2 separate regions of the Homo sapiens genome follow, and region 1 is linked to region 2. A link means that fine-mapping ties the variant in region 2 to the expression of a gene that starts in the linked region. Tissue or cell type: subcutaneous fat. Region 2 holds a variant in brackets; the other region holds the start of a gene. All regions are shown on one strand. Distances are between the middles of the regions.

Region 1 (2,754 bases), 20 kb after region 2:
CGGGCATGGTGACGCACGTCTGTAATCTCAGCTACTCAGGAGGCTGAGGCAGGAGAATTGCTTGAACCCGGGAGGCAGAGGTTGCAGTGAGGATCACGCCACTGCACTCCAGCATGGACAACAGAGACTCTGTCTCAAAAAAAAAAAAATGCACAAAGCAAAAAAAGAATGAAGCAACAAAAGCAGAAATTTTTTGAAAATGAAAGTACATTCCATGGTGTGGGGGCGGCCAAAGCATAGAGGCTCAGGGCCCCATTACAGAACTTGTGAGGTTTAAATACCCTCTAGGGGTTTCTACTGGTTACTTGGTGTACGCCCTATGTAAATAAAGAGGATGAAATAAAGTTACAAAATCATTTACTCAGTGTACACCCTATGGAGAGGGTATTTCCTGTCATAGCTGAAGTGTTCCCTGCCTCCAGACCCTGTTTTCCTGCCTCAATTCCTTTACTTTTCTAATAAACTTGCTTTCACTTTGTGGACTCGCCCTCAATTCTCTCTTGGGGTCTGGATCGGGACCCCTTTCTGGTAATATAGACAGAAAATACGGCCTTGACATGGTTGTCAGGAAACGACAGTAAGGCCTCCGAGGGTGGGGTTCTGAAGGGATGTTAAACGCCCCACCCCGAGGAAGGCTCTGGAGGCTCCAATCACTTTCAGCCTCTGCTACCAAGATGTCCGACCCTACCAATAAAACTTCCAGCAGCGGGGCGCGGTGGCTCACGCCTGTAATCCCAGCACTTTGGGAGGCCGAGGAAGGCAGATCACCTGAGGTCAGGAGTTCAAGACCAGCCTGACCGACATGGTGAAACCCCATCTCTACTAAAAATTTAAAAAGTTAGCCGGGCCTGGTGGCGCACGCCTGTAATCCCAGCTACACAGGAGGCTGAGGCAGGAGAATTGCTTGAACCAGGGAGGCGGAGGCTGCAGTGAGCCGAGATCGCGCCACTGCACTCCAGCCTGGGTGACACAGCAAGACTCCGTCTCAAACAAAACAAAACAAAAAACCTTCCAGCTTGGAGAAACTGAGAGTGAGCAGTAGGGAGTGAGGGGGTCCCTGGGAGGAACCAGAACTCATCCCGCTTCAGGGTGGGGCTGGCCCCCTTCTTGGCCTTGGCCGGGGCTTCGTGTCACGGAGCGCCCGAGGGACGGTCGGAGCCCACCCCAGCCCGCCCGCCGCCTGAGCCTGGCCGAGCTCTCTGCACCTGCACACGTCTGTAAAACGCGGATGAAACGCTTCTACGGAACCGGGTGGCTGAGATGAAGTGAGTTATGGGTATAAAGCGCTTAGAGCGATGCCTGGCGGACACTCGGTGCCAAATAAGCGTTCGCTGTGGCGACGATGACGCCTCCAGCCCAAAGCCCGTGGTCGAGCAGGGCCGGGCTCCCAGCGCTAGGGGGTTCCTAGGCGCGGCGCTTCGGGGGTCCTGGACACAGACACGGGGGACAGAGCTCCTACCAGCGACGATCCCGAGGGTCTGCAGCAGAGGGGCTGAGGCCCGGGACGGGGGTGGTCGCAGCGCCCTTTCCTGAAAAAACGGGGTTCGGCTCTAAGGCGCCCCCAAGCCCTGCCGGCAGCGCGGAACCCGAGCCGCTCAGAAGCCCGGGAGCCCCAAGTCTCCGGGACCAGAAGCGCCGCGGCCCTGACTTCCGGAAGGTGGACGGAACCCGCGGACGGGGCGGGCCCGCGTGGCGCACGCAGAGCCACTTCCGGGCGCGGCGCCGGCTTGGTGAGCGCGGGTACCCGCGGGCTTCCCCGGGCGGCTGCGTCCCCAGTAGCCCGGCCGGCCTCGGCACCGCGTGTCGTGGGGGTCCCGGGCCGCGGCTGCAGGGCCGGGGCGGCGGCGAGGCCGAGGGGCGGGAAGCCACTGCCCGGCCTGGCAGTGTGAACGTGCAAGTCGATCCCCTAACCCAGAAAGCCCCAGGCGCGGTCTCTATGGGCGGCCCCGCTCCTGCTTCTGTTTTATTTTTTTACGGACAGGGTCTCGCTCTACCGCCCGGGTTGTAATGCAATGGTGTGATCACGGCTCACCGCAGCCTCGACCTCCCGGGCTGAAGCGATCTTCCCGCCTCAGCCTCCTGAGTAACTGGGACCACAGGCGCGCCCTGCTGGTTTTTTTTTTTTTTTTTTTTGGTAGAGATGGGGGTCTCGCTATGTTGGCCAGGCTGGTCTCGAATTCCTGGCCTCAACGATCGTCCTGTCTCGGCCTCCCAAAGTGCCGGGATGACAGGCATGAGCCACCGCGCCTGGCCCCTTCTTTTGAATGGGCCTCCTTGCGTTTCCGTTTCAATGCCCCGTGCTACTTTTTTGGGAGCCCCAAGGCTGTACTGTTTGATTGACTCCTTTTTTTCCCCTTTCTTTTTAACCTAAATTAAAGCTGCCACTGCAGAGCCCCGCCATGGAAGACACGCCGTTGGTGATATCGAAGCAGAAGACGGAGGTGGTGTGCGGGGTCCCCACCCAGGTGGTGTGTACGGCCTTCAGCAGTCACATCCTGGTGGTGGTGACCCAGTTTGGGAAGATGGGCACCCTGGTCTCCCTGGAGCCCAGCAGCGTGGCCAGTGACGTCAGCAAGCCTGTGCTCACCACAAAAGTCCTTCTGGGGCAGGATGAGGTAAAGTGGATTGGCCGGGAACTGTGGCTCACGCCTGTAACCCTAGCACTTTCAGAGGCCTAGGCGGGCAGATCGCTTGAGGCCAGGAGTTTGAAACCAGCCTGGGCAACACAACAACACACACACAAGTCACTACAAA
Region 2 (2,754 bases):
ACAAGACCTGCTAGCTGCCAGCCCCGGGGACTGCTGAAGAGAGCTTGGACCCACCCGGCTGGCCATTACAGCCTCACAGACACGCCCAGAAGTGATGTTTTTTACCAGCTCTCTAGGCGCCACTTACCCCAGTCAAGTTGACTCCTAAAATGAATATCACAGCCAGGTCAGAGGTATGCACAGACTTTCCCTCTGAATTCCCTCGACGCCCTTTGAAGGGGTCCTATTATTATTCCCATCTTATAAAAGAGGATGTTTGAGAGTTTCAGTGATGGCTCCTGACCACACAGCTCAGGGCGGTGAAGCCCAGACACACATCAGCCTTCACGCCTGGGCTCTCAAGTTCTCCCCAGCCTGGTTTTCTCTGAACCCAACCCAAGTCTCTCCACTCCTGAGGGATGATACATGCCCACCCCTCTCCGGAAGCCTCCACGCCCACCCTCTCCTTCCACTTCTCCCAGCTGCATCTCCCAGCCACGCTGCCTCTGACCTGTCTTCCCCAGACCCAGCCTCATTTCTCCAGACCCCGGGCCCCTATCTCCCCTTTCCTCTGCCATTTGGCAGATTTGCTATGTGGCCCCGGGAACACAGTCTTCAGCAATCTCTGTCTAGCACGGTGCAGGGAATTAAAGGTGACTCACACCTGTAATCCCAACAACTTTGAGAGGCCGGGGTGGGAAAATCCCTTGAGTCCAGGAGTTTGAGATCAGCCTAGGCAGCATCTCCAGATCCCTTTGCTACAAAAACATTAAAATTAGCCAGGCTTGGTGGCATGCACCTGTAGTCCCAACTACTCTGGAGGCTGAAGTGGGAGGATCGCTTAAGCCCAGATGGTTGAGACTGCAGTGAGCTTTGATGGTGCCACTGCACTCCAGCCTGGGTGACAGAGCAAGACCCTGTCTACAAACAAACAAATGAACAGAAAAAAGACTGCAAATTCTTTGCCCCCCTCCCATTGAGAGGAAGCTGTTCCCCCTCCCGTTGAATCTGTGGGCTCCGGGCTCCATCAAGAGCATGTGGGGACTGAGTCATTTGTTCACCCGCGTTCACAGCAGCACCGTCCCCAACAGCCAAAAGGGGAAAGCAGCCCAAGTGTCGTGGACCGATGAATGGATACACAAAACGTGGTCCTTCCACACAGTGGAGCATTACTCAGCCTTCAAAAGGAATGAAGGCTGGGCACAGTGGCTCACGCCTATAATCCCAGCACTTTGGGAGGCCAAGGCGGGGGGGA[T/GT]CACCTGCCTGAGGTCAGGAGTTCAAGACCAGCCTGGCCAACATGGTGAAACCCCGCCTCTACTAAAAATACAAAAATTAGCTGGGTGTGTTGGTGGATGCCTGTGATCCCAGCTACTCAGGAGGCTGAAGGAGGAGAATCGCTTGAACCCAGGAGGTAGAGGTTGCAGTGAGCTGAGATTGCTCCATTGCACTCCAGGTGGGTGACAAGAGCAAAACTCATTCTCAAAAATAAATAAATAAAAAATAAATAAATAAAAAATTTTTAAAAGGAAATGAGGTGCCGTCATGTGCTGCAATGTGGATGAAACTCGAGGACATTATGTAAAGTGAAATAAGCCAATTGCCAAAAAACTGATACTGTATGATTCTGCTTATGTGAAGTGTCTGAAATGGCCTTGTTCATAGAGGTAGAGCAAAATGGTGGGTACCAGCGGCAAGAGGGGCAGAAGGATGGAGAGTTATGGTTTAATGCATACAGAGTTTTTATTGCAGATGATGAAAAAGTTTTAGATATAGACAGTGCCGATGGTTACACAATATTGTAAATGTATTTAATCCCACTTACGAATGATTAAAATGATAAATCTTATGTTTATTTCATCACTACCAAAAGGCTGTGGGTGCAGGGGTGCTGGTTTCTGGTCCTAGCCTAAGAGACTGGCAGTTTCCACCTTCTATCTCTTGGGACAGTAGCTCTGGGAGCCCTGAGCTGTCATGCAGGAAGTCCAGCTACCCTGAGACCACCATGCTGGAAAGGCCACAGGGAGGAGCTCTGTGGACAGTCCCAGCTGAACCTTGCCTTCCAGCTGTCCCTGTCAAGATGCCAGGCATGTGAGTAAAGCCATCATGGACCCTCTAGACCAGACTGCCCACCAGCAGGGTACCATCTGGCAGCCACATGGAGCAGAAGAACCGCCCAGCTGAGCCACTTCCAAACTCTTGACCCACTAAGTCATGATCCACAATGAACCCATCATAGGGATGGTTGGCTTTGCAGTGTGGATAATGAGGATGTCATGTGAGAGACAGCTGAGGTACTGACCCAGGGTGTGACTGATGCTCCCCATGTACCCAGAGCTCACTTGTGAAATGAGGACCATGGGACATCATGAGGATGAGAGGCGGTGATCCAGGAGTGTGGACATTCAGCCAATGCCTGACAGAGCTGGGATATAAACACCTCAGCTCCCTCTCCCTCAGGGAAGACTTTGAGGCGTGTGCTCCAGCAGCTGCCCACAGTGGGGGTAGGCATGGAGACACACCCACTGTGGCCCATCTTCCCTTACCCATCTCACTCCCTGGGATGGTTAATTTTATGTGTCCACTTAAGTGCACTGTGGGGTGCCCAGACTACACACTGTGTCTGTGAGAGTGTTTCTGGATTAGATCAGCATTTGAATTGTGGACTCAGGAAGGTGGACTGCCCTCCCCAAGTGGCTGGGCATAATCCAATCCCTCAAGAACTTGAATAGAACAGACAGCAGAGGGAGGAGGAGTTCACCCCTCATTTCCTGCCTC

The links. PIP is the estimated chance that this variant, and not a neighbour inherited with it, causes the effect.
Region 1: it holds the start of PSMG3-AS1, and the variant in region 2 is fine-mapped to the expression of PSMG3-AS1 in subcutaneous fat (GTEx, PIP 0.98).

The regions. Positions count from the first base shown.
Region 1 is chr7:1,568,985-1,571,738 of GRCh38, reverse strand. It overlaps PSMG3-AS1 (PSMG3 antisense RNA 1), which reads right to left and starts at 1,666. Exons shown (of 5, transcript NR_027329.1): 1 at 1,460-1,666. PSMG3 (proteasome assembly chaperone 3) reads left to right here and starts at 1,707. Exons shown (of 2, transcript NM_032302.4): 1 at 1,707-2,615. The coding sequence starts at 2,400. RefSeq lists enhancers at 656-705, 716-785, 1,409-1,977 and silencers at 1,086-1,165, 1,606-2,035.
Region 2 is chr7:1,588,573-1,591,326 of GRCh38, reverse strand. It overlaps PSMG3-AS1 (PSMG3 antisense RNA 1), which reads right to left. Exons shown (of 5, transcript NR_027329.1): 5 at 1,701-2,754. Among named protein-coding and RNA genes, the nearest start is that of PSMG3-AS1, 20 kb to the right of the region's middle. The variant T/GT (reference allele first, on the strand shown) is at 1,235.